Linked DNA regions of Homo sapiens: region 2 is linked to region 1. The links come from fine-mapping of genetic effects on gene expression. Tissue or cell type: lung. Region 1 holds a variant in brackets; the other region holds the start of a gene. All regions are shown on one strand. Distances are between the middles of the regions.

Region 1 (4,397 bases):
GGGACTGCAGGGTAGAAGGGAACTGCATGCTGGAATCAGGTTCTTAACACTGGAGCCAAAATTACCCCTGGGGGACGGGGGAAGCCCTCATCACTTCCCAAGCATGGAACCCTTTCTTTCTCTTCTCTACTCTTTCTTGAGACAGGATCTCTGTTACCCAGGCTGGAGTGCTCCCTGAAGCCTCAACCTCCTGGACTCAAGCGATCCTCCTGCCTCAGCCTCCTGAGTAGCTGGGACTACAGCCGCACACTGCCACACCTGGCTAAAAAAAAAATTTTTTTTTTTTTTTTTTTTTTTTTTTGAGATGGAGTCTTGCTCTGTCGCCCAGGCTGGAGTACAGTGGCGCAATCTCGGCTCACTGCAAGCTTCGCCTCCCAGGTTCACACTATTCTCCTTCCTCAGCCTCCCCAGTAGCTGGGACTACAGGTGCCCGCCACCATGCCTGGCTAATTTTGTTTTGTATTTTTAGTAGAGACAGGGTTTCACCATGTTAGCCAGGATGGTCTCGATCTCTTGACCTTGTGATCCGCCCGCCTCGGCCTCCCAAAGTGCTGGGATTACAGGCTTGAGCCCCTGCGCCTGGCCTTTTTTTAAGTAGAGACGGGGTCTGCCCAGGCTGGTCTCAAATGCCTGGCCTCAAGTGATCCTCCTGCCTTGGCCTCCCAAATTGCTGGGATCACAGGCATGAGGCACCATACCCGGTCTCAAGCATAGAACTTTTTCTTCTGGTACTAGACTATGTTTGTTTGTCTGTTCAGTTTTCTGTCGATGGACATCTGGGTTGTTTCCACCTTTTGGCTATTATGAATCATAGCACCATGCACTGCTACACCCAATGGCTGCTATGAACATTCAGGTATGAATGTTCGGACACCTTTTCATTTCTCTTGGACAGATACCTAGGAGTGGAATTGAGTCACTGGGTTGAGCGTCTGATGATGTCATTGTTCTACAAAGACAGGTCAAACTCCCTACTATATTGAAACAGTTTCTCTCTCCTTTCTTTCTTGCAAAGTACCCATCTTTGAATTCGAGAAAGTTCGTGTAATGGGACTACTACATACACTGAGTGGCCGACATGCCACAGCAGTGCTCAGCAGGCCTCTGGGGCCGGGGATGTGGGGGAGGGCTAGAGGAAGGTACGGTCACAGCTTCTCCATGTCCATCTCCTCTCCTAGGTACAAGTCCTTATGCCCAGACACCTGGCCGCACTGGCACGGGCCTCCAGCAGAGGGCGTGGAACGGCTGATCAAGTACATCGGCTACAAACCCGAGGAATACAAGTTAGGCAAGTAAGTGACCAGAAGACCACCAAATGGTCTCTTCCCTTGACATCAAAGGGTTTTGTGCATTGATCCGTATCCATCTAGAGCCTGGAGACTCGATTCCTAGGGATTTATGGAGATTTGCGAGATTTATGCTTCATCTACTCGATGTAAATGCAGCTCTTAATTCTTTAGAAGAGCTATGGTGCTGCCGGTGGGAGGAAATGAAGTTATAAAGGAAACTTCCGCACTAAACTGATTTAGCAGATGGGCCTCCTTGCTAGCAAAACAAAGAGGGAACCAGAGGGGGCACCTAACGTCCGTGTGCCTGGATTCTTTCACTGTTCCCATGTACGCATGACCTGCCAGAGGAGCTACTGGGACCTAGACAATGTGAGATCATCTGTAGCATCTCAGAAATGGTGTGCTGGAACTCTTAACTGTAGAGTTGTAGTTATCCATGAGCAGAGACTTTCGTACACATTGAAAGCTTTCAGGCACAACTCAAGGGACATGAATCGGGAAGATCCGAGTCCGTCTTGTGCGTCATTTTGGTCAGGGTTAATGAGGTTGCAGGGAAAGGTGTCTCAGCATGAAGATCTATTCCCCGACAGCAGGGCTTCCCCACTCCAGAGAGCTCTGCCTGTGATCCTGTTCATGGGCTTTCCC[T/C]GCTGACTCCTAACTCCCACTTGTACATGGTCGTCTGGGCCGCCTTGGCCTCTCTCCATCTGTAGACTCCTATTCTGGGCCTGTTCCAAGGATCAGTTACTTAGTCAGTCCAGATCTCCAAGGGGATTCTGCAAGGCTCAGCACATCCTGAGGGAGGCAGGGCATGGAGGTCAGAGGTGGGATCCGTCTGTCCCCTGTTCCATAAATTGAAACAGGGACAAGGGAGAGTGGGATCACCAGGCACCACCCACTGCTGTCCCCAGTGGCTGCCCTGGGAACTTTCCCTCACCAGGCCTGGGGTCGGGCAGGCAATGTGAGGTCAGTATTTGTAACTTCTCTCTGCTGGCTACTGTGATCTTCTTTTTATTTTTTTATTTTTTGAGACAGAGTCTTGCTCTGTCACCCAGGCTGCAGTGGCATGATCTCGGCTCACTGTAACCTCCGCTTCCTGGGTTCAAGCGATTCTCCTGCCTTAGCCTCTCGAGTAGCTGGGATTACAGGTGCACACTACCACAATGGGCTAATTTTTGTATTTTTAGTAGAGACAGGGTTTCACCGCGTTTGTCAGGCTGGTCTCAAACTCCTGACCTCAGGTGATTCACCTGCCTCGGCCTCCCAAAGTGCTGGGATTGCAGGCGTGAGCCACCGCGCCCAGCGTGATCTTCTTTTAAGCTTAGATCCACATTATTTGTCTGGCTGGGCGTGGTGGCTGGTGCCTGTAATCCCAGCTACTCGGGAGTCTGAGGCACGAGAATCATTTGAACCTGGGAGATGGGGGTTGCAGTGAGCCGAGATTGCACCACTGCACTCCAGCCTGGGCAACAAACTGAGACTCTGTTTCAAAACAAAAACAAAAAACAAACAAAAACACCCATATTCTTTGTCGTCACTCTTTAAAGCCTAGCAACATAACTTGAAGCAACTTCAGGTTACGTTGGTTTATTCATTTCCTAGGACTGCGTAACAGATGATCACAAAGTGGCTGATTTAAAACAAATCTATTCTCTCCTAGTTGTGGAGGCCAGAAATCCAAAAATCAAGAGTTGGCAGGGCCACATTCCTGCGGGAGCCTCTTTTAGCTCTGGTGGCTCCTGGCATTGCTTAGCTGTAGCCGTGTCCCTCCAATCTCTGCCTCCGTCCTCACGTGGGCTCCTCCCTGTGTCTTTCTGTGTGTATAGAGACACTCTCAATGGATTTAGGGCCCACCCTATTCCAGGATGAGCTCATTTCTATCCTTACCTCAATCACATCTGCAAACACTATTTCCAAATAAGATGGTATTCTGAGGTTCTGAGTGGAAATGAATTTTTGAAGGGGGCACCGTTCAACCCACTAGATGGTAAACTGACCAATTAATAACAAAAACATTTCTTTTCACTTCTAGAACCAAAATATTCATTCGTTTCCCCAGAACTCTGTTTGCTACCGAAGATGCCTTTGAATTTAGTAAACATCAACTAGGTATGATTTCTTTTTCTGTCCCGATTTCAATAGAATATGAAATGAACAAGTGGAGCTTGGGGGTAAATCTTAAACACGGGTGTTTGATATAGTGTTAGAAGCATTCGCTTTGGAAACTAGGAACGAGATATGGGATTATGATAAGATCCCTGTGAATTTCTGCTTTAATGACTGCTTGGAGGTCAGTCACAGATGCAGGCAGATATATAAACATTGTTCCGCCGTTTCAGTTCTCGTTTGGATCAGATTCTGTTGTTCACTACTAGGGTGTAAAACCGTGAGAGACCAGCCCCTTGAAATTAAAGTTTACAAAACTTCACTTGTCTGCGTGTCTGATGTTGGAAAGTTTAGCTTCAAAGCCTGCAGCCTGGGTGTTTGCTGGGAATGGTCAATGAGAAAAGTTAGATGGGGAAATGCAAAAAGTAAAAAATCAAAACTGCGGGGGGAGGGAGCGTCTCTTTTGAAATGTAACCGGTCTGTCAAGAACTACGCTTGAGTCATTTGAGGGCCTGCTGTGCGCCAGGTGAACACTAAGTCCTTTAAACCATGGTCTCATTCTGTTCTGAGAACAGACCTGTAAGGGAGGTGACATAGGTGCTATCGTCTCCGCTTTCTATGCAGGGAAACTGAGGCACGGAGGTGTTGGTAACTTGTTGAAGGCTACACAGCAAGTAAGCAGCCTAGCTGCGGTTTGAACCTGGGTCTGTCTGGCTTCAAGGCTTGGTGGTCTCATTTTCTGACCTCCGTAGCAGTGGGCACCAATGGCTGGGGATCTGGTTGAAGGGCCACAGTTAGGCCAGTGGGGCCTGAGCCAGCATCTCTAACCAGCTCGTGGGGAATAGGATGTGGCTGCTCTGCAAGGCTCTTGATGAGCTTGGCCTCTGATAGGACCTAAATTGCTGTGTGGAGGGGGTGGATGCAGGATGTAGAAGCCGAGGGAGAGTGTTCTCTGATCAGACCTGGATTCATGCTCCTCCTTAGCTGTGTTGCCCGGCAAGCGTC
Region 2 (4,397 bases), 86 kb before region 1:
GGGGGTCATGAAAATGTTCTTGAATTAAATAGTGATGATGATTGCACAACATTGTGAATCTATAATAGTCCCTCCATATTTATGGGTTCCAATTCCATGAATTCAACCAACCTTGGATCAAAAGTATTCAGGGAAAAATTTTCATCTGTATGAAGATGTACAGACACTTTTTTGTCATTGTTGCCTAGACAATGTAGTATAACAACTATTTACATGGCATTTACATTCTACTAGGTATTATAAGTAATCTGACAATGATTTAAAGTGTACAGGAGGATGTGCATAGGTTATATGCAAATACTATGCCATTTTATATCAGGCAATTGAGCATCCATGGATTTTTGAAGGTCCTGGAACCAATCCCCCACAGATACTGAGGTACAACTGTACTTAAAAAACAATGAACTGTATAAATAAGTGAATGTTATACGTGATTTATATTTCAATTAAAAATATATTTCAGATATGCAAAAATGTATGAAGAATCATATAGGCCAGGCGCGATGGCCCACACCTGTAATTCCAGCACTTTGGGAGGCTGAGGCAGGTGGATCACTTGAAGTCAGGAGTTCGAGACCAGCCTGGTCAACATGGTGAAACCTTATCTCTACTAAAAATACAAAAGTTAGCTGGGCGTTGTGGCGGGTGCCTTGTAATCCCAGCTACTCAGGAGGCTGAGGCAGGAGAATCACTTGAACCTGGGGGGCGGAGGTTGCAGTGAACTGAGATCCTGCCATTGTGCTCCAGCCTGGGCAACAGAGCAAGGCTCCATCTCAAGAAAAAAATAAATTATATTTAAAAACTAAAATATATGTCTATAAAATTATATATTTTTAAAAAACATTTTTAGTATACTATTTCTGGTTGTCCCTTTGTAACCAAATCAAGGATATGTTATATTACCTATTCAGTTACAAAAATGGAATCATTTCTTTAAAAAAGTCAATTGATCAAAAATTAGAGTGTCCAAAGAATTATTAGCATATTTCTGCTCTTGTCAGGGCTTGTGTTAGGGGTTCTCCAATAGGATATATATACAGAGAGAGAGATACATGAAATGGGATTAATAAATGAAATCCTGAGGTCAGTCGCTGGACCCACAGTCCTCCATCCAACAGGGGGTGCTGTTTAGGTTCGAATGAACCCAGCACTGAATCCACTGTCCATACCCTTAGCCATGATCCTGTTGCAGCAGCAGGCTCAAGTTTGGGGGCCCAAGGCATACAATGTGGTGGGTGATGGGTGGGGTTGTCTGAAAGAACAAGAATAGAACTTTATACGATGAGGCCCAGACCAGGAAGGGGTGAACTCTGAGCTTCATGGTAAACCCATCTGTAACTGAACAGCCTCCAATATCAGCAACCTTGTGATTTTTTATGAGATGATAGTGCCCCTGCATCACTTCAGCATCTGAAAATAATAATAAAATGAAAGTAAAGTCCTGAGTCTCCGTATTATGAAACCTTGAAGTTACCCAATCAACTTGATTCCATGAAATTTAAGGCTGTAAAGTTTTTCAAACAGAGCCAACAGGTACTTCCAGCAGGAGTTCCCTGGAGCTGGATCCTAGGCTAAGAGATTGGGAGAATTTTCTTTTCTTTTTTTTTTCTTTTTTTCTTTTTTTTTAAGCATAGCTCACCGAGGGTCCTGCCATTATTTCAATAGTCAGTGACTGGTCAGGAACATAAGCAACTAATCAAAGATCAGCAGTGTCTGTAACGTAAACTCAAGGGAGGTTGGGTTTCCAGTTCTTATCTCCCTGGAGCAGCCCGGTGTGCCTACATGTAGACGGCCATAAGATGCAGTTTCTGCCTCCCACCGTAAATTATTAACTTAGCTCCACCCCGCAAGCTAGAATCGCCTCATACCTTGTTGCTGGATGTCAGGCATCACAGAATCATAAGTCAGTGGGAAGCAACTTTTGAATGGCTCAAGAGGAATAGTTGTTAACAACCTGCTCTCCCTCTGTGCGTGATGGAATCCAAGGTAATGTGACTTGAACACTAGAAGGTGGTTACACCTGGTGACCTCTTTTCTACCAAGAACTTTCCAAATGGCTATAATGCTGGGCCTCTGCTAGGCCTGGAGAGAGAACTGGGCGTGTGAATAAGATTCTGAATTTATTTGATGAAAAATTCTATGTTAAGATGATCATGTAGATATCTCCCTTCTGTTGCTGGGGGCAAGTACGATGATTTAGAACCAAAGCATGGGAGAGTTACCGATTCATTTCACATTGGTCTAGAACAGCGTGCTGTGCAATAAAGACAGAAATGGTCTCTGTTAGCACTGCCTAATGCAAGAGCTCTTGGCTATGTGTGACTACTGAGTGGTTAAACTGTGGCTGGTTCCTGGGGAACTGAATTGTAAATTTGACTGAATTTTCATTAATTTAAATAGCCACATGTGGCTAGTGGCTACTGTGTTAGCATGGTTGGGTCTTAAATAATAGATGGTGACCTCATGTTGAAGGAAATTGTAGGTAATAATTGGCCTTACATGTAAGACTATTGGTACATTTTCTTCATTACCCTAGATACCTTGTGTTTCCTTTTAAATGCGATAAGCCCAACTTGTCCCAGGTAATGATCATTTTAAGAAGCTAAGACAGCTGTTTTTATTATCAGGTAGACAATGGTAAAGCTCTCCTGGGAAGATGGAAGACAGAACTTGAGTGTCAAACCTATTGCCTCTTTCCAGGAGTTAATTCTAAGCATAAAGACTTCCAAGGACAGGTTTTCTGGGTTTCGATAGCATAATCATCTCATGTGTTCTCTGTTTAGAAAACATTATCTGCTGAAGGATTGTTTCTTTTCTTGCCTAGACAGCCAAAAAGCTTACAGAAACATTTATGGATGTAGTTAGAATAATTTCGTAGCTGTTCACAGAAGCCTCAGGCACCATGAAGAAACCCTAGCTACAGCTTGTCATTGATCCATTCAGTCAATTACCCATTTCTATAGCACTGAATACTGTCACCTTGGCAACTGGTAACTCAAAATGGCACTGTCCTTGACCGAAAATGTATCTGAATGCCCATAACAAAGTCCTGGTTTTAGATGCCATTCTTGCATGATATCTCAAAGTGGTAACTCTAGGAAGCATGATTCATTGGGAGAAAATAATTTAGTTGATGGACAGAGAGGAGTATTTGCTGTAGGTCTTGCAGTGAAAGACAACAGATAGGTCTGTCCTCAAGGTCGCATGTGCCTTTTTTTAAATTGTCATGGCTTTACAAAATGCACGTAGAAGTAACCATGCAGATTGACTTATACATAGTTACACTTTTTTGAAAAATGGAGGAAGCTCTTCCTTCTTATGAATTAATTCCCAGATTCCTTTGGTAAAACATTATTTGGATAGAGTTTACTCCAGATTAAAAAAGAACAAACTGGGCTGGGCATGGTGGCTTGTGCCTATAATCCTAGCACTTTGGAAGGCCAAGGTGGGAGGATCCCTTGAGACTAGGAGCTTGAGACCAGCATGAGCAACATAGTGTGACCCCCCCACCAAAAAAATTAAAAAGTAGCTAGATATGGTGGCACATGCCTGTGGTCCCAGCTACTCCAGAGGCTAAAGTGGGAGGATCACTTGAGCTAGGGTGATCAAGGCTGCAGTGAACTGTGATCATGCCATGCACTCAGCCTGGATGACAGTCTGAAACCCTGTCTCAAAAAAAAAAAAAAAAAAGAGGCCGGGTGCGGTGGCTCATGCCTGTAATCCCAGCACTTTGGGAGGCCGAGGCAGGCAGATCACGAGGTCAGGAGATCGAGACCATCCTGGCTAACACGGTGAAACCCCGTCTCTACTAAAAATACAAAAAAATTAGCCGGGCGTGGTAGGGGGTGCCTATAGTCCCAGCTACTCGGGAGGCTGAGGCAGGAGAATGGCGTGAACCCGGGAGGCAGAGCTTGCAGTGAGCGGAGATCACGCCACTGCACTCCAGCCTGGGCGACAGAGCAAGACTCTGTCTTGAAAAAAAAAAAAAGTTAATATTATTATTATATTATTTTATATTATATTAAATATTAGAGATGGAACCATTCAGAAATGACCTCAGAAGGAGCTGAGTTTGATGAACAAAGCAAAATGAAGAACTGAAGCACCATGAATAACAATGCTGATTTTAGCGAGCATTTGCTTCGTGCCGTTGATTGTCATTGTCCACATGGTAGCATATTTAGTTCGCAGGTGATTCATTCAAAAGCTCACTTTATGCAAATCATCTGGGCAGTTGCCTCTTCTCTCCAAGTTAGTTGGGTTGTAGGGAATCCATAAACTCCTGATATGGTTTGGCTGTGTCCCCACCCAAATCTCATCTTGAATTGTAGCTCCCATAATTCCCTCGTGTTGTGGGAGGGACCCGGTGGGAGATTATCGAATCATGGGGGCAGTTT

Evidence for each region. PIP is the estimated chance that this variant, and not a neighbour inherited with it, causes the effect.
Region 2: it holds the start of MYO1H, and the variant in region 1 is the best candidate, but not a certain one, in a credible set for the expression of MYO1H in lung (TOPMed, PIP 0.59).

The regions. Positions count from the first base shown.
Region 1 is chr12:109,431,719-109,436,115 of GRCh38, forward strand. It overlaps MYO1H (myosin IH), which reads left to right. Exons shown (of 32, transcript NM_001101421.4): 20 at 1,179-1,292; 21 at 3,319-3,395. Among named protein-coding and RNA genes, the nearest start is that of KCTD10, 43 kb to the right of the region's middle. RefSeq lists an enhancer at 2,047-2,551. The variant T/C (reference allele first, on the strand shown) is at 1,935.
Region 2 is chr12:109,345,987-109,350,383 of GRCh38, forward strand. It overlaps MYO1H (myosin IH), which reads left to right and starts at 1,914. Exons shown (of 32, transcript NM_001101421.4): 1 at 1,914-1,986. The coding sequence starts at 1,975.